Regions from separate parts of the Homo sapiens genome. Here region 1 is linked to region 2. Evidence: fine-mapped expression QTL. A gene starts in region 2. The other region holds a variant in brackets. All regions are shown on one strand. Distances are from middle to middle.

What was found. PIP is the estimated chance that this variant, and not a neighbour inherited with it, causes the effect. A credible set is the group of variants that fine-mapping cannot tell apart.
Region 1: its variant is the best candidate, but not a certain one, in a credible set for the expression of CD320 in whole blood (INTERVAL, PIP 0.71).

Annotation. Positions count from the first base shown.
Region 1 is chr19:8,331,499-8,341,067 of GRCh38, forward strand. It overlaps KANK3 (KN motif and ankyrin repeat domains 3), which reads right to left. Exons shown (of 11, transcript NM_198471.3): 2 at 6,297-6,358; 3 at 3,002-4,294; 4 at 2,822-2,921; 5 at 2,412-2,618; 6 at 2,226-2,310; 7 at 1,516-1,732. The coding sequence starts at 6,330. Among named protein-coding and RNA genes, the nearest start is that of KANK3, 7.0 kb to the right of the region's middle. RefSeq lists silencers at 3,510-3,609, 3,770-3,959, 3,990-4,039, 4,140-4,399 and an enhancer at 8,772-9,272. The variant CAG/C (reference allele first, on the strand shown) is at 4,570.
Region 2 is chr19:8,304,357-8,314,081 of GRCh38, forward strand. It overlaps CD320 (CD320 molecule), which reads right to left and starts at 4,002. Exons shown (of 5, transcript NM_016579.4): 1 at 3,793-4,002; 2 at 675-800. The coding sequence starts at 3,934. It overlaps NDUFA7 (NADH:ubiquinone oxidoreductase subunit A7), which reads right to left. Exons shown (of 4, transcript NM_005001.5): 4 at 6,928-7,239. The coding sequence ends at 7,149. RefSeq lists enhancers at 2,765-3,505, 3,492-3,621, 3,506-4,245, 4,301-4,830, 7,585-8,187 and 1 more and silencers at 3,702-3,791, 3,766-4,104.

The DNA.
Region 1 (9,569 bases), 27 kb after region 2:
GTTAGTACCAGAGGTGCCCAAAGGCTGACTCAGAGGTTTCTGAACCTGCAGGAGGGTACCTGGAGGGAGGGGGCTCCTGGTGGACAGCGATTTGTTTACCACCCACCAGACCCTTTGTGCCCAGTTTATCAGGGCAAGCAGCTGGAGGTGGGTGGGGCACAGTGCCCCATCCCAGGAGGAGTCAGAGCCCTGCCTGGTGAGTACCTCCCCTCCAGGCTGGACACTGGGGCTCAGGAACTCGGTGAGTGCTCCAGCTGGAGATTCAGGGACAGAGCACATGCTGGCCATTTACTGATCTCGTACTACCTGTATTATCATAGGTACCCAGGGAGGGAGGCCTTGCCAACCCCATTTCACAAGCAAGATTAAATAATGCCCCTAAACTGAGGTTTACCTAAGTCCAGAACTGTGTATTCCCTCCAGCTGCAAAGTAGGAGGAGCCTCAGGGCAGAACTAGGGGTATGGTGGGGCCAAAAGGCCTCTTTTTTTTTTTTTTTTTTTTTTTTTTTTTGAGATGGAGTCTTGCATTGTGGCCCAGGCTGGAGTGCAGTGGTGCTCACTCTTGGCTTACTGCAACCTCTGCCTCCTGGGTTCAAGTAATCCTCGCACCTCAGCCTCCCGAATAGCTGGGATTACAGGTTCCCACCACCACGCCCAGCTAGTTTCTGCTTTTTTGTTTTGTTTTGTTTTTGTTTCTGAGACTGAGCCTCACTCTGTCGCCCAGGCTGGAGTGCAGTAGCACGATCTCAGCTCACTGCAACCTCTGCCTCCCAGGTTCAAGCAATTCTCGTGCCTCAGCCTCCTGAGTAGCTGGAATTACAGGCATGTACCACCACACCCAGCTAATTTTTGTATTTTTAGTAGAGATGGGGTTTTGCCATGTTGGCCAGGCCGGTCTCGAACTCCTGACCTCAAGTGATCTGCCCACCTCGGCCTCCCAAAGTGCTGGGGTTAAAGGCATGAGCCACCATGCCTGGCTCAGAGGGCAGAAGGCCTTTGGGAACCCAGACAGGAAGAGGTTTAAAACCCAAGGAGGTTGGCTGGGCGCAGTGGCTCAGGCCTGTAATCCCAGCACTTTGGGAGGCCGGGGCAGGCAGATCACGAGGTCAGGAGATCAAGACCATCCTGGCCAACATGGTGAAACCCCGTCTCCACTAAAAATACAAAAATTAGCTGGGCATGGTGGCGCACATCTGTAGTCCCAGCTACTCGGGAGGCTGAGGCAGGAGAATCGCTTGAACCTGGGAGGCGGAGGTTGCAGTGAGCCGAGATCGCGCCACTGCACTCCTGCCTGGTGACAGTGTGAAACTCCGTCTCAAAAATAAAATAAAATAAAATAAAATAAAATAAAATAATAAAATTAAAATAAAATAAAATAAACTCAAGGAGGAGTGGTGCCCTGTGCTGGACAGCCATTCTCTGCTTTCCTCTCCAGAGTCTTTGAGCCTAGGTCAGCCCCTGCCCTCTCCCCCCACCCATTTCCTGGTGTCCCACCCACCCTCCCTTGGCTCTGACCCGTATCCAGGAGCAGGCTTGCGATGGCCAGGTTCCCGTGGGACACACTGTAGTGCAGGGCCGTGTTCCCGTTGCCATCCGCCAGGTTCACCACGTGCGCCAGCAGTTCGGGTCCCAGGCGCCTCACCCCTTCCAGCATCCTGGCCACGGGCTCCGCCTGAGAGCGCCGCTGGCTGGACACTCGAAACCACTCCTGGGCCACGAGGCGCACTGCGCCCTGCAAGGGACAGGGGCCAAGATAACATCGGCGATGGTCCACGGCGGCGCCGTGGTGGGGGAGCTGGGGAGGGGCGGGACTGGGAAGAGACCCATTTGGCGTTTCCAGGCAAGTAAGGAAGGTCACTCCTCGTCCAGGTGGGGAGCCATGCGAACCCAGATGGAGGGCTGGGGCCACACCCCTATCGGAGGGCAAACACGGGGGAAGGGGGTCCTTTCCTTCCAGGGAAGAATTTGCGGGAGAACATGGAACGGGGAAAGGCAATGAACGCTTGCCCTTGGGGAGTCCGGGAGTGGGGCTGGGGCCGGGCCTTTTTGGGGAAACCAAGGAAAGATCGGCGCTGTCCTGGGAAGGAGATCCCTTCGGAGAGCCTGGGGTCAGGCGAGGTGCCTGGCGGGAAGGGATGGAACCCGGTGTGCTCCCCTAAGTGGGCGTCAGAGGTCCTTGGAGGCTCCCACGCCACTCCCTGGTGCTGCGCTCCCGGGGCACTCACGCCGTCGCTGGCTACTCCGCGGGGCCGGCTCAGCTGCCGCTGCAGCGCTACGCACGCCTCCCTCAGACGCGGGCTCAGCTCGCACCTGCAGAGGAGGCCAGGAGAGACTCAGGATGGATCGGGGACAGCGCCGACCAGGAGGAGGGCAGCCGCCTCCTCTCCAAACAACTAGCGAGCGCCGCTCACCTCCCCTGTGCCACCTGCTGAGGCTCTGCCTCCGCCTCGGGCTCAGGGTCCCGGATGTCCCCGCCGCTGGGAGGGCCAGGGGTGCCCGAGTCGGATCCCCCGCCGCTGTCATCCCCGGAGCCCGAGGAGCTACCCGGGGGCTCGGCGCCACCGTTCTCGCTGTCGCCATCGCTGTCGCTGGCGTCCTCGCTGGAGGAGCTCTCGTACCTGGGGGCAGGGTGGGAGGTGTCTGCTAAACCTCCCCTGTGGGCTCGTTCTGGAGTCCTGCGATGTGGGTGTGGCCGTTCCCATTTAACGATGAGGAAACTGAGGATTGCCCAGACCACGCTGCCAGTAGAGGGGCAGAGCTGGGGTTCCAACCCCAGTCTATGTCCCGGCAGAAGCTGCCACAGGAGGGGAAAGGCGCTCACTCTCCGTTGAGGACCCCAACAAACTGCAGGCTCTTGGGTCCGGAGCTGGGTTGGGCACCAGGTGTGCCGTCTCTCTTCTTCATGATGGATTTGAGGATGCCTGGCGGGGATGAGATGAGGGCACTGAGTTCGAGTCCGGCGCCGAGTAAGCCAGGGCCCAGCGACGGGGTCGGGACTCACCCGCGGGCGCCACGGCCCTGTCTCCGTCCATGGATCCGGGCGAGCTCTCCTGAGTCAAGGAGGGCGCCTCTGCCGGGGACTCGGTCTGCGCGGCCTTTTCGGCACAGCTCCACGGGGTCTGGGTGGTGGCCTCGCGTAGCTGGGCCCGGGCCCCCGCCGCTGCCTCCTCCGCAGCCTCGCGGGCTTCCTCCAGCTCCCGCAACCGGCCCCGCAGAAGCTCACTCACCCCGCGCTGGTGCTCCAGACTGGCGCGCAGCAGCTCTAGCTCGCGCTCGGCGGCCGCAGGCAGCCCCAGCAGCGCCTCGGTCACCCACGCGTCCGCCTCCACGGTCTCGGGGGCAGCCTCCACGCCGGCCTCCCGGGTCTCCGGCACGGCCTGGGCACCCGCTTCTCGGGTCTCGGGCACGGCCTCGGCGGCCACCTCCCGGGTCTGGGGCGTCCCATCGAGACTCCCGACCTCCCCGTCGAGGACCTGGAGCGCGCCCTCGCTGCGCCCTGCAGCCAGGCCGTCTGGGCTGTCAGCCCGGGGGCTGGCCCTGGCACGGCCGCCGCGCTCGGAGGTGGCCAGGCGCTCGGTGAGCCGCCGCAGCTGGGCGAGCTTGTCCGGGCGCGTCTCAGCCTCCCCGTCCGGCTCGGGCTGCGCGCGCCCGGCCAGCAGCCGCGCCTTCTCGGCGCGCAGCGCGCGCACCTGCTCCTGCAGCTCGGGCAGCGTTCGCGCCTGGTCCTCGAGCTCGCGCAGGCGCCGCAGCGCCGCGGCCATCTGCTCGCGCACCAGCTGCAGTTGGGCAGGGCCGGGCGAAGCAGGGGCAAGGTTAGGGGCGGGGCTGCTGCGGCCGGACCCGCGTGGGCTGCGCGGGACCCCGCGGCCGGGGCTGGGCGCGCGCTCGTGTGTCTGCGCCAGCTCCAGCCGCCGGCTGGTCTCCCGGAGCGTGTGCTCGACGCGCGGGTTGCGCACGGGCGCGCGCGGCGACAGCGGCTGCATCAGGAGCCCCGAGGGCGCGCCCTGGGAGAGTATGCCCGGTGCTCCACCGTCGTCACTGGCCAGGGACTCGCTGGATGTCCAGGCGCCTGGGCTACGTGCGCCCGCGAGGCCGGGCCGGGGCGCGCGGGGACGGCGCGAGGTCGGGGGTCCCGGGGCGCGGCGGGCAGCGGGGCCACGCTCCAGCTCCTCTATGTACTTGAGGAAGTCCAGGTCCAGGTGGAAGCCGTAGGGCGTCTCCACCGAGTAGGGCGAGCTCGGGCTGCGTGCGCCCCCGGCGGCGGGGACCGGGCACAGGCGGGGGCCGCCCAGGTCTGGAGGCACGACGGGGGCACGGGGAGGGCGCATCAGAACGGGGAAACCCGGGAGATACTAAACAAACCGAGCGTGTCCCCCACCCATGCCCACGCTTCACACCTATCTGTACCCAAGTATTAACTCAATCGCTTGTTTAATGAGCACCTACTCTGTGCTAAGCAAGTTTCTAGGCCCGGGGGACACAGCAGTGAGCAAGACAAACATCCCTGTCCTCCTGTAGAAAGCAGATAAGCATCCTTCCAAACGATGCCTACGGCAATGGTAATAATAA[CAG/C]GGAATAAACGGAGGAGGCCCGATTTAGCGTTTGGTTGCCAGGGAAGCTTTCCTGTGAGGGGACTTTCCTGTGGAGTGGAGCCCTGGCCCGGCGTGTGGTTCGCGCCTGTAGTCGCAGCATTTTGGGAGGCCGGCACAGGCGGATCACCTGAGGTCAGGAGTTCCAGACCAGCCTGGCCAACATGGTGAAACCCAGTATCTGCTAAAAATACGAAAATTAGCTGGGCGGTAGTGGCGCGCGCCTGTAATCCCAGCTACTCCGGAAGCTGAGGCAGGAGAATCACTTGATCCTGGTAGGCGGAGTTTGAGGTGAGCCGAGATCGCACCAATGCACTCCAGCCTGGGCGACAGAAGAGAACCTCTCAAAAAAAAAAAAAAGTAGCCCTGGCCGGGCGCAGTGGCTCACGCCTCTATCTCAACACTTTGGGAGGCCGAGGCGGGTGGATCGCTAGAGCTTAGGAGTTCGAGACAAACCTGGGCAACAAAGTGAGACCCCATCTCCAAAAATATATATATACACATATACATATATATACATAGCTGTGCATAATGGTGAGCTACTCAGGAGGCTGAGGTGGGAGGATCACTTGAGCCTGGGAGGCAGAGGTTGCAGTGAGCCGAGATTGCACCACTGCACTCCAGACTGGGTGACAGAGTGAGACCCTGTCTCAAAAAAAAAAAAAAAAAGGTTGGCGAGGGGAAGCCCTGCACGATGAGGAGGAAGCAGCTGGGAAAAGGTTTCTAGAAGAAAACAGCCCATGGAAATACCCTGGGGTAGGAGGGAGGAGGGTCAGCTGGAGTCACAGCGAGATGGAGACCAGGGTGTCCCGAGCAGAGTAAAGAAGGCAGGGGGAAGAGGAATGGACGCACAAGGGCCACACTTCCCTGGTTTGAGGGCTACCTGGGGTGGCAGGGGGTATAGTCCACTTGCGATTAGTGCCATAGGTGGGGTGTTTTTTGTTTTGTTTTTTTCTTTTTTTTGAGACGGAGTCTTGCTCTGTTGCCCAGACTGGAGTGCTGTAGTGCGATCTTGGCTCATTGCAGCCTCTGCCTCCCAGGTTCCAGCAATTCTCCTGCCTCAGCCTCCTGAGTAGCTGGGACTACAGGCACGCGCCACCATGCCTGGCTAATTTTTTTTTTTTTTTTTTTTTTGAGACGCAGTCTCGCTCTGTCGCCCAGGCTGGAGTGCAGTGGCACAATCTCTGCTCACTGCAAGCTCCGCCTCCCGGGTTCAAGCCATTCTCCTGCCTCAGCCTCCCGAGTAGCTGGGACTACAGGGGCACCACCATGCCCGGCTAATTTTTTGTATTTTTAGTAGAGATGGGATTTCACCGTGTTAGCCAGGATGGTCTTGACCTCCTGACCTTGTGATCTGCCCGCCTCGGCCTCCCAAAGTGCTGGGATTACAGGCATGAGTCACCACACCGAGCCGTGCCTGGCTAATTTTTGTATTTTTAGTAGAGACAGGGTTTCACCATGTTGCCCAGGCTGGTCTCAAACTCCTGATCTCAAGTGATCCGCCCACCGTGGCCTCCCAAAGTGCTGGGATTACAGGCATGAGCCACCGCACCCGGCCATGATTGATGCCATAGGTGGTTTAAAGCAGGCTCATGACATTGGAGAGGACTGCACTCTAGGGCTGTAGGCTGCGTCCACACACAAGGGCATCAAGCGTTTCTCTGTGCATGCGCACACACACACACATCTCTCTTTTTGCACACTCACCGGGCAGGTTCTGATTCAGGGCAAACTTGGCCATGTTTCCTGCAGCAGCTGTCAGAGGCACCCTGCAAAAGGGGTGAAGGTGGGGCTGGGCGCTGTCCCTCTGGCTGGAGCCTCTGGGGCCTGCCTTTGAGTCTAAGCAAACAGGACCCAAGAGCTCTCCTCCACCCAGCCACCTCCCTCCACACATGGCCTCTCCTTCCTCTTCCCTAAAGAAACCTTGAAACTTTTTTTTTTTTTTTTTTTTTGGGACAGAGTCTCGCTCTGTCACCCAGGCTGGAGTGCAATGCCACAATCTCGGCTCATTGCAGCCTCCCCCTCCCGGGTTCAAGTGAATCTCCTGCCTCAGCCTCCCAAGTGGCTGGGATTACAGGTGCCCACCACCACGCCTGGCTAATTTTTGTATTTTTGGTAGAGATGAGGTTTCACCATGTTGGCCAGGCTGGTCTCGAACTCCTGACCTCAAGTTATCCGCCTGCCTCGACCTCCCAAAGTACTGGGATTATAGGCATGAGCCACCGTGCCTAGCCGACCTTGAAACTTTGGATGGAATGAATGATCCCCAGGTGTCAGATGTCAGCCTGCTGGGCAGGAGGAAGCAGGAAAGACATCAAGCAAAAAGAAGAAGGTGACCAAGAAAACAAGGGTAGCTGGGAGTTGGGGAGGCATTCCAGACCTGCTGGGTTTTCTGATAATCTCTGGGGAAAATCAGAAATGGACGCTCTATGTAGTGGACTATGAGCCTTTAGGAAAGAAAGACCAGAGTTGGAAGCCCTTCACAGGATCATTAAAAACTCATCTAGGCTGGGCGCGGTGGCTCACGCCTGTAATCCCAGCACTTTGGGAGGCCGAGGAGGGCGGATCATGAGGTCAGGAGATCGAGACCATCCTGGTTAACACGGTGAAACCCCATCTCTACTAAAAATATAAAAAAGTAGCCGGGCGTGGTGGCAGGCGCCTGTAGTCCCAGCTACTCGGGAGGCTGAGGCAGGAGAATGGCGTGAACCCGGGAGGCGGAGCTTGCAGTGAGCTGAGGTGGCGCCACTGCACTTCAGCCTGGCAACAGAGCGAGATTCCGTCTCAAAAAAAAAAAAAAAAAAAAAAAAAAGGATGTAATTGTGCATCCAAATTTTTACCAAGGTCAGTTGTGAAACTCTTGCAGGAATGATGGGGAATTGCGGGCTGGATGCACCAAAGATCCAAATCAACAAATCAACGGATACTTGTCTCCCTGGAATGTCGCTAGCGGAGTGTCACAGGCTTGATCCTTGGCTTGTAAGAGTTTGTAATGCAAACACAAAACACCTGGGTTGTCAGAGCTGTGACTATTCATGGGGCTGCCTGGGAAAGTGACTGTTTGGATGACATGATGGAGGCTGTAAGAAAGTGAGGAAGATTGGGCCACATATAATAATGTGATATTTAACAAGGACAAATATTGAATCCAGAACTTTGGTTCAAAAAGCACAGGGTGAAATCTCAGCACTCTGGGAAGCCAAAGCAGAAGGATCGCTTGAGCCTAGGAGTCAAGACCCACCTGCGCAACATAGCGAGACCCTATCTCTTTTTGTTTTTTTTTTTTTTTGAGACAGAATTTCCCTCTTGTTGCCCAGGCTAGAGTGCAGTGGCACAATCTTGGCTCACTGCAACCTCTGCCTCCTGGGTTCAAGTGATTCTCCTGCCTCAGCCTCCTGAGTAGCTGGGATTACAGCCACTGCTACTATACCTGGCTAATTTTTTGTATTTTTAGTAGAGATAGGGTTTCATCATGTTGGCCAGGCTGGTCTCGAACTCCTGACCTCAGGTGATCCACCCACCTCGGCATCCCAAAGTGCTGGGATTACAGGCATGAGCCAAGGTGCCTGGCCACTATCTCTTTTGTTTGTTTGTTTTTAAATAGTGAAACCACCAAGCACAGTGGCTCACAAGCCATTGCTCTCCAGCCTGGGCAACAAGAGCGAAGCTCTGTCTCTAAATAAATAAATAAAATAGCGAAACCCCATCTCTACAAAAAACACAAAAATTAGCTGGATGTGTTGGCATGCACCTGTAGTCCCAGCTACTCAAGAAGCTGAGGCAGGAGTATCTCTTGAGTCCAGGAGATGCAGGCTGCAGTGAGTTATGATCATGCCACTGCATTCCAGCCTGGTTGACAGAGCAAGACCTTGTCTCAAAAAAAAAAAAAAAAAAAAAGAAAAGAAAAGAAAAGAAAAGCACAGGAACATGGAGTGGGAAAGATGGGCTTTGGAAAGCCCACATGGAAAACCTTCAGGGAGGGGAAAGTGCCTACGGTGTGCCCTTCCTGATTAAATGTCATCGCCATAGCTGGACACAATGGTGCATGCCTGTAGTCCCAGCTACTCAGGAGGCTGAGGCAGGAGAATCGCTTGAACCTGGGAGGCAGAGGTTGCAGTGAGCTGAGATCATGCCACTGCACTCCAGCCTGGGGGACAGAGCCAGACTCCGTCTCAAAAAAAAAAAACCATATATATATATATATACACACACACACACACACACACACACACAGCCCCCATACAACACTTTGCATACTGCAAAGTAGTATTATTATTCATATTTTACAGATGGAGAAACTGAGGCACAGAACAATTAAATCAGTTGCCTGTGGGAAGCACCCTCAGATTGGGCTCTGCCCATCTGCGGAACCCTTGTCAGCAGGTCCCTGCCACAGCTTCTGACTGCCCTTTACCTGTCCAGTCCTCCACTGACAGGCATCTGCCAAACCCACTTCATCCTCTCCCTGGGCCACGGCCCGTCTGTGCTAACCACATGGCAACACTCCCAGCCACCCCTTCTGGCTTCTCGAATCCCTGGGACCACCTGTGTGCCTGATGCTATGAAGCACTGAGCACCCACCAGCCCTCCTGACTCATTACCCTACTCCACCGCTGGGGAAACCGTAACTCCATTTCCCACTTCTGTCTGGCCGAGGTCCCTGACCTCTCCCTTCCCACTCCAAGGCCAGGCAGGGGGCCTCTTCCAGTCCCCAAGCAGCTGTTTCCCGTCCCTTCACACCAGCTGCAAGGGGTGGATCAACAGGCCAGCGGGTCATCGCAGAGGACAGCCAATGCCGTTCATCACTTGTTTTCAGGAAATTGCCAGGGAAGAACTGGGTTGTGGAAAAAGTCCAGATCAAGGGTTGGGGGGTCTGGGTCTACTTCTCACACAGCTGGCCGTATGACGCAATGGGGTCAGCGTCCTCCTCCGGTGACCTGGTCACACCCAAATCCCAGGCCCTGGGATCTCAGAAGACAG
Region 2 (9,725 bases):
TTTTGAGACGGGGTCTCCCTTTGCTGCCCAGGCTGCAGTGCAGTGGCGCAATCTCGACTCACTGAAACCTCTGCCTCCCAGGGTCAAGTGATTCTCCTGCCTTAGCCTCCTGACTAGCTGGGATTACAGGGGCCTGCCGCCACATCCAGCTAACTTTTGTATTTTTAGTAGAGATGGGGTTTCACTGTGTTGGCCAGGCTGGTCTCGAACGCCTGACCTCAAGTGATCCGCCTGCCTTGGCCTCCCAAAGTGCTGGGATTACATGTGTGAGCCACCGTACCTGGCTCCCTCCCTCTCTCTTTCCTTCCTTTCTTTCCTTTCTTTCATTTTTCTTTTTTTTTTCTTTTTCTTTTTTTTTCCTGAGACAGTCTTACTCTGTTGCCCAGGCTGGAGTGCACTGGCACAATCCTAGCTCACTGCAGCGGCAACCTCCCAGGATCAAGTGATCGATCCTCCCACCCTAGCCTCCCAAAGTGCTGGGATTGCAGGCGTGAGCCACTGCGCCCAGCCCAAGCCCATCTTAGACCCCGCTTCTTATGACCCACAGACCCAAGTCGCACCCATCCCTGCGGCCCTGCCTTTCCCACAAGCTCCACCTCCGCGTGCCTGGCCCCTGACAAACCACCCTCAGGCCCCGCCCCCTGTAAGCCCCGCCAAGGGGCGTGGCCACTCACTGCACTCCTCCTCATCGCTGCCATCGCTGCAGTCCAAGTCCCTGTCGCAGCGCCAGGTGAGGGGCACGCATAAGCCACTGGTGCGGCACTGGAACTTGGTGGGTGGGCACGAGCCTGAGCTGGGGCCTGCGAGATGGATGCAAATGAAGCCTGGGAAGCTGGAGGCTGGACCTTTCTCCAAGAGCACAGTAGTCACTGGCTGTGATCCGCAGGAGACAGGCGAAGTCCCGGGATATAGGAACCACACTGGCGGCTGCTTGTTACTGAGCCCCTAGTACGAGTGGGGTTCAGAGTGTAGCAGTTCCTGGGCTCAAGAGCCCCACTGGGCAGGTGCTACTGCACTCCCCAGGTTACAGAGAAAGGAACCAAGAGGAGGCCATACAGCTGGTGGCAGAGGCTGGGTGCAGTGGCTCACGCCTGTAATCTCAGCACTTTGGCAGGCCGAGGCAGGTGGATCACTTGAGGTCACGAGTTCGAGACCAGCCTGGCCTACATGGAAACCCCGTCTCTGTTAAAAATACAAAAATTAGCCGGGCGTGGTAGTGCACGCCTGTAATGCCAGCTACTCGGGAGGCTGAAGCATGAGAATCGCTTAAACCTGGGAGATGGAGGTTGCAATGAACCGAAATCATACTGCTGCACTCCAGCCTGGGCGACAGAACGAGACTCCGTCACCACAAAAAAGAAAAAAAAAAGAGCTGGTAGCGGAGTTGGGCTTCGAACTCAGGTCTCGCTGATCCCAGAGTCTTCACCAGGCTCCTCATAGCGAGATGATCTGCCAGGGAGACCTCCAAACTCAGTGGTTAAAGAGACTGAGGGACGGGCCATTTTTCCACATGCCCTGGGTCAGGCTCCCGGGCTCAGGTCAGCAGGGAGGGTCTATCTCCTCTGCGTAGCAAAAGGGAAACTGAGGCAGTGGGTGGGAAACTGAGGCACTGGGTAGAAAATCTGCTCAGTCACCAAGTCCTGTTGCCCCGCCTCCTGAATTCCTCCCAGACCTATCACTCTCCCCATCCTAAATGTGTCAGCTCCTCACCAGAGCCCCAGGCCCCAGGCCCCAAGGTCCATTAGGACACCAGAGACTTGCCTTTCCCTCTCTCCTCCCTACACCCTGTGTTTTCCCCTCAATTTTCAGATCTCAGCTGATTTCCTGGGAGGGTTCTCATGTCCCTCTTGGAGACCTAGGAAGCACTGCCTCCCATGTCTAACAACTGTCCTTAAAGCCCTGGTCATGCCTGTCCACCCACAGACTGGACATTCTGTGGAGGTCAGGGCTGTGACCTGGCCGCCTAAACCCAGGGCAGTGCCTGATTATAAGTGGACACAGGTCACATAAGGGTCCAAGCTGGGTCCAGAGAAGATCCCGGCTGTCCTAGATTCTGAGCAGGGAAGCTCAGCTGCTTGCCGACCTGGAGGGGCACGGAGGGGCCCGCAACCTGGGCCAAGGGACAGAGGAAGGGAGTGGCCTTTACGGCTTCCTCCTGGGTGCGGCCAGGGGAGGTGGCAAATCCGCCACCCTGGCTTAGCTTCACTCTGCCAAGGCCTTTAACCTCTTCCACCTTTACCCACCAGCCATGAGCCTCCAACCCCCCACTCCCCACTGCCAGCCCCTCCTCGGCCTTCAGGCCTAATTGCACCTACTTGCCACAGGGTCCCTGAGCTCTATGGATCCCAGAAGAGCTGTGGACAAACCGGTGCCTGCTTCCTTCCCCGCCCCCGGGAGATCTGGCAGCCTCCAGGTGTGGCTCTCCACCCAGGCGCAGACTTCCACAGCCCTGACACCTCTGACCTCCCTTCGCTGGACTGCGGGAGTGTGTATCCCTCTGCAAAGTGGACAGTAGAGCACAGCAGTCCCCGCCTCATAGGGTGTAAGCCTGACAGGAGTTACAGTGACCAGTGACTTTCTCTCCTGGCCTCAGTTTCCTCACCTGTAAACGGGGTATGCTGGGAATCCCTACCTCAACATCCTGAGAAAAAAGAGACTGTGTATAGAGTTTTGTCCTGTAATCCCAGCACTTTGGGAGGCTGAGGCGGACAGAACACTTGAGGTCAGGAGTTCGAGACCAGTCTGGCCAACATGGTGAAACCCCATCTCTACTAAAAATACAAAAATTAGCCGGGCATGGTGACGGTGCCTGTAGTCCCAAGCTACTCGGGAGGCTGAGGCATGAGAATTGCTTAAACCCGGGAGGCGGAGGGTGCAGTGAGCCAACATTGCACTGCACTCCAGCCAGGGCGACAGAGGGAGACTCAAAAAAAAAAAAACAAAAACTTTTGTACTTGGTTAACGTGAACGCTGCCTCCTTAAAAAAAAACAAACAAAAAAAAACCCAGGAACATTTAACGTGAATGTCAGGGACTTTGGGATGAGTCCAGGGACCTAGAAGTGCGGAATGCACAAAGGAGCTGGGAAAGTGTGTGAGCCTGAGCCCAGGGCTGCAAGTTGGGAGTGCCTGAGTGCACAGGGAGGCCACTCCAACCCTCCAGCTGCCTCTAGGGGTATCAGAGAGGGAGCCCGTCCCCACTGGCCACCAATACCTCTTAGGCCAGGGCGAACACGTCCACGGGGGTATATTCAACTTGTGACCCCAGTCTCTGCGAGAGCCTGCAGTAGCATGGGGGGGAGAGACCTCGCGTTCTCTAAGGATGGAGGACAAAGGAGGAGAGACTGGGAGGGCAGGGACGGTTGCGGAACGGTCACAAGGCCTGGGCGCGAGGGTTTGGAAGGCAAAGGTGCGAGAGGCACCAGGTGACCCGTCCTGCGTGATTAGCGGTCGGACAATCTGAGCCTGCTAAGAGCTTTCCTGACCACGCTGGTATGAAGGGCGGCTTGGAGGTGACAATGGGGGACGACAGGGCACAGCAGGTGTGGAGACGGTGTGCAGGGCCGGAGCAAAACCGTTAAAGGCAGGTGGAGACACCCTCCTCCCCTCCCCCAGCATGGGGTCTTCCTAGCACCAGTGCGCGCCTTCCCACAAGCGATGAAGTCCAAGTCCACGTGCTGGGGGAGTGTCATGAACTGACGTGCGGTGCAGCCAGTGACTAGGCGTTGTCGGTGCGCGGCGGCGGGGCGAAGCCTCGCGAGGGGTGGGAGCCCGCGCTGCGGGGCGTCACTCACCTGCGGCCTGGGCAGAGGTCGGGGTGGAAAGCGGGCTCGCGGCGGCCTCCAGGCCTAGTCCGAGGCCGAGCAGCAGCAGCAGCGCCAGGCCCAGAGCCCCTGTTCGCCACGCTCCAACCTGCGCCATCCAACCGCCGCTCATGCTGTCCCCACAGCGGCGCCGGCCACGCGCTGTCCAGACCGCTCTCTTATCCCTGCGCACGCGCACGCGCGGGGTTGGGGCGGGGCCCAAGCCCCTGAGTTCTGCGGCGCCCGCGGCTACGCGTACCGTAAATGTCAGAATAGCAGGGAAAAGAGAATTAGAGGCCCGTCCCCACTTTCCCCAGTGACCAGATCAGTTGAAAGGTATGGAGCCCGCTTGAAGTTAGAAACTTCTGGGGATGGGAAGGAATTTGTTGGTGTTCATTTGCATTATTTCCCGTTCCAAATGAGGACTGCTGCAAATGTTACTGCCTCGTGATCTTCTTTAATATGGCAGCCACGCCCCTCAGGCACTCCGCATTTCCTCCCTCATCCCACTGCTTTTGTGGCGCCGACAGGTAATTTATTTTATTTACTTATTCTGGTTTGTTGTCCGAGTCCCCATAGAATGCTAGCTACTGGAGGGCAGGGATCTTCTGTTGCTCACTGCTTTATTCTCAGGATCTGACACATAGTGCTTGACTCATAGTAGGCTCTTAGTAAACATTTGGTGAGTAAATGAATAAATGAAACGTCCATTCTCGGAGTCGGGTTGCTTGGGGGGGAAAAAGGAAAGGAAATCAATTAATTAATTAAATTTAATAATAAAGGCCGGGCGCGGTGGGTCACGTGTGTGATCCCAGCATTTTGGGAAGCAGAGGCGGGCAGATCGCTTGAGCCCAGGAGTTCGAGATCAGCCTGGGCAACACAGCAAGTCCCCGCCCGCCTCAAGAAAAAAGAAAATTAGCTGGGCATGGTGGCTCTAATTTGTAGTCCCAGCTACTCAGGAGGCTGAGGTGGGAGAATCACTTGGGGCTGCACTCCAGCGTGGGTGACAGTGAGACCCCATTTGTTAGAAAAGTTGGCCGGCGCGCTGGCTCACGCCTGTTAACCCCAGCACTTTGGGAGGCCGAGGCAGGCGGATCACGAGGTCAGGAGTTCTAAACCAGCCTGGCCAACATAGTAAAACTCCCGTCTCTACCAAAAATACAAAAATTAGCCGGGTGTGGTAACATGCTCCTGTAGTCCCAGCTACTAGGGAGGCTGAGATGGGAGAATCGCTTGAACCCGGGAGGCGGAGGTTGCAGTGCGCCGAGACCACATCATTGAACTCCAGCCTGGGTGACAGAGTGAGACTCTGTCTCAAAAAAAAAAAAAAGTTGTGGTCATAAAACTTGGTTCAGATGCCGTCAGCGGCATGCCTTGCCTAGGGTCTTGCCCTCCTTGTGGCCTCTGCACACCCTGCCTAGTCTTTCCTTCCCTCCTGACCTTTCTGAATCTGATTCATCCTTTTGCCCCAAGCAGAATCCCACCTTCTCCAGGAAGGTGTTAGCCTTTGTAGGACCCACTCTGGGACACTGGTACCTGCTGCCTGTAGCCGTGGCCTTTCCCCTTCCAGAGGGCAGGGCGGTCTCAGCACCCTCTTGGTCCACAGCTGATCTTTTTTAGCTGCTGAAGGGTCTGGGGCTGTGCCCTGGGGAAGCCATGACACTCCCCTGCGTAGGGTCACTGGGTGGCTCCTGCAGCCAGACTTGGACACCCTCCCTTTGCAGATTTCTGTCTCCTCCCCAGGAACCAGCTGCCTTCCTTCTGGGGCGAATTCATTCTTATCCCACAGCCCCAGCATAATGGGATCTGGCTCAGGGAGGCCTTTCCTGATCTGCCCTAGGTTTGCCTTCCCTGTGAGCAGCCCTTACTGTCCTCTGCCTTCCCCGTTGAGCTGCAGGGTGACCATGGTCAAGCAGGAGCCTCAGTGGGAAGGTGCTGAGGAAGGTTCATGTGAGAAGTGGCTGTGGGAGCCCTCAAGAGATGGAAGTTAGGCCAGGCGCGGTGGCTCACGCCTGTAATCCCAACACTTCGGGAGGCAGAGGTGGGCGGATCACTTGAGGTCAGGAGTTTGAGACCAGCCTGGCCAACATGGCGAAACCCCGTCTCTACTAAAAATACAAAAATTAGCTGGGCTTGTGGCAGGCGCCTGTAATCCCAGCTACTCGGGAGGCTGAGGCAAGAGAATCACTTGAACCCAGGAGGCAGAGGTTATAGTGAGCCGTGATCGCGCCATTGTACTCTAGCCTGGGCAACAAGAGCGAAACTCTGTCTCAAAAAAAAAAAAGAAGTGAGAAGTCTGTGGCTGGCCTACTGAGTGTCCGCACATACACCCCTTACCCCACCTGACTGGTCTTCACAATCAATGCTCCCCAACAGCCAGCGGTCCTGGGAGTCCAACCTCCCAGAAGGATCACCCACTCCCACCACTCTCAAGGTCAGAGCCTGGCCTTTGGGGGAAAGGGCAGTGCTGTCTCCAGGGCCTCTGCACCCAGGGACAGTGTCTGTCCCACCCCTGGAGTGCCAACAGAGTTGGGAGACTCAGCACTGACTTCACCCCAAAATCCAAGTAAGCTGGGTATTGCTTAAAATCAGGGGCCAGGCGTGGTGGCTCACACCTGTAATCCCAACACTTTGGGAGGCCAAGGCGGGCGGATCACCTGAGGTCAGGAATTTGAGACCAGCCTGGCCATCTCTACAAAAAAAAAAAAAAATTAGCGGGTATGGTGGTGCACACCCGTAGTCCCAGCTACTCGGGAGGCTGAGGCAGAATTGCTTGAGCCCAGGAGGCAGAGGTTGCAGTGACCTGAGATCGTGCCGTTGCGTTCCAGCCTGGGTGACAAGCGCGAAAACTCTGGCTCCTGCAGCCAGATTTCTATCTCCTCCCCAGGAACCAGCTGCCTTCCTTCTGGAGCTAACTCATTCTCATCCCACAGCCCCAGCATAATGGTTTCTGGCTCAGGGAGGCCTTTCCTGATCTGCCCTAGGTCTGCCTTCCCTGTAAGCAGCCCTCACTGTCCTTTGCCTTCCCCGTTGAGCTACAGGGTGACCAAGGTCAAGCAGAGGCCTCAGTGGGAAGGTCTAAAAAATAAAAATAAAATCAGGCCAGGTGTGGTGGCTCATGCCTGTAATCCCAGCACTTTGGGAGGTCAAGGCAGGAGGATCGCTTGAGGCCAGGAGTTCAAGATCAGCCTGGGAAACATGGTGAGACTCTGTCTCTATTTTTTTATTTTTTAAAGTAAAACTAGAAGTGATACCTGAGCTCTACGTATTTGTCATAAATTAGGTCACATTCTCCCTGGAGGAAATCCAAGGAGGCAAAGTAGTCGGGTGGCCGTGAGGGTGCAGTGTCACAGGTAAGGCTGGTCCGAGGACAGCTCCCACCTCTTTATGGGAGGAGCTGGAGTCACCGCCTTCTTCTCAGTGGCAGCTACAGCAGAGCTGGAGGAGGGAAAGACTTCAGTGAGGGTTTCCAAAGAACAGTGTGGAAAGATCTGAGGGAGCCCACACCTGCCCCGGGACAAACACACCCACAGGGACTTTCTGGACCTGCAGGACAGACAGCAGGGTGTTCCAGAATGCCAACCCCTCCAACGCAGCCCCTCAGAGGATCAGCCAACGCCAGGTGGGAGCTAGCAAGCCTCCTCTCTCCCCTGAGCCCTGTATGAACCCCCTGCTGTGGCCCCCAGGCCCAGAACCCACTGTGGAGAGCTGGGCTCCTCCCTTCCCACTTTTGGTCTCCAGCGTACACAAGGCCCCCACCCCCATTCCTGCTGCCCCTCAAAACAGGATGCTGGCAAAAGGGCCAAGCGATCAGGTGACAATGGCCTCCAGCTATTCCTGCCTCAGACTGGGCAAGAACTGCATGGCAGGCGCTACTGTGTGGGCGCAGAGCCAGGAAGATGGGGCACCGCCCTCAGGAAGACTCAGGCTGGTGGGGCTGAGAATCCATGCGCAAATGGCAACTGCAAAACGCATCTCTGGCCCAGAGCTGGCCAAGAGGGAGCCCCCAGGAGACCCTGTGCCGGCAAGTCCAGGACGAGCACCCTCCCCTCTCACCCCACCCACCTGAGCCTGTGGAGCTCACACACTTCACAGCCTAAGCAAGAAAGGAAGCAGGAGGGTGGGGTGATGGAGGAGGCGCCCCAGGGGTGGAGGCACAGGACCTCCCAGGAGCCTCAAGGAAATGGAAAAGGCAGAAGTGGCCTCCCTGGGAAATGCACACATCTCTGGGGGCATGGCAAGGGGCTGTGTGGGAACAAGGTATCTTGCCACACTCTGGTGCTGGACTCCAGTGAATCAGAAGGTGACAACAAGGACCACTCCACTGAGTTCCTTCTTTTTGAGACAGACTCTTGCTCTGTCACCCAGGCTGGTGTGCAGTGGCACAATCTCAGTTCACTGCAACGTCCGCCTCCCAGGCTTGAGTGATTCTCTTGCCTCAGCCTCCCAAGTAACTGGGATTACAGGTGTGCACCATCACTCCCGGCTAATTTTTGTATTTTCTTTCTTGTTTATTATTTATGAGACAGGGTCTCACTTTGTCACCCAGGCTGGAGTGCAGTGGCGCAATCTCAGCTCAGTGAAGCTTCCTCGACCTCCCAGGTTCAAGAGATCCTTCTGCCTCAGCCCTTCAAGTAGCTGGGCCTACGGGTGCACACCACCACACCCGGCTAATTTTTGTATTTTTTGTAGAGATGGGGTTTCCCCATGCTGCTCAGGCTGGTCTTGAACTTCTGGGCTCAAGCGATCCACCCGCCTCGGCCTCCCAAAGTGCTGAGATTACAGGCGAGAGCCACAGCGCCCCTAACTTTTGTATTTCAGTAGAGGCAGGGTTTCGCCCTGTTGGCCAGGCTGGTGTCGATCTCCTGACCCCTAGTGATCCTCTCACCTCGGCCTCCCAAAGTGCTGGGATTACAGGCGTGAGCTACCATGCCCAGCCTAAAAAATTTCTAATAGAGACGGGGTCTCGCTGTGTTACTCAAACAAGTCTAGAACTCAAGCAATCCTCACACCTCAGCTTCCCGAGTCACTGGGATTACAGGCACACACCACTGCGCCTGGCCTATTCACAGAGTTCTTTTTTTTTTTTTTGAGACAGAGTCTCACTCTGTCACCCAGGCTGGAGTGCAGTGGCGCGATCTCAGTGAGCTGCAAGCTCCGCCTCCCGGGTTCACACCACTCTCCTGCCTCAGCCTCCCGAATAGCTGGGACTACAGGCGCCCACCACCACACCTGGCTAATTTTTTGTATTTTTAGTACAGACAGGGTTTCAACATGTTAGCCACGATGGTCTCGATCTCCTGACCTGGTGATCCGCCCTCCCCGGCCTCCCAAAGTGCTGGGATTACAGGCGTGAGCCACCGCGCCCAGACCTCACAGAGTTTTAAGTACAGAGCAGGCCCTGCCTGACCTCATCACCTCCCAGATCTCAGCACACTGCAAGTCTAGCATCCCTATTTTATATGTGAAGAAACCAAGGCTCAAGAAGGCTGAGGGACTGCCCACACCGTGAGTTGGCTGTAGAGCCCAGACCCCAACAGGAGTCCAGGAAAACTGGTTTGAAATCCTGCTTCTGCTTACTGCTGCCTGTGTGGCCCAGGCCAGTCACTTGGCTTCTGTGAGCCTCGATTTCCTCTTCTGCAAGAGGGGTCATCACCATCTAACTGGTGGAGTTATTAGGAGGTAGGCAGGACACTGACTCTGTGCCAGGCTCCAAGAGTTTACAAATATTAATTATGAGGACTAACCCTCGTAACAGCTTTCTGAAGTAGATGCTATTAGAGTCCCCATTTAATTAAGAGAAGACACCTGAAACCAGGGACCAAACTGCTTTTTGAGAGGAGCCCAAGGTTTATACACTTCTGTCTCTGAGAAGAATACATGGCTGGGCATGGTGGCTCACACCTGTAATTCCAGCACTTTGG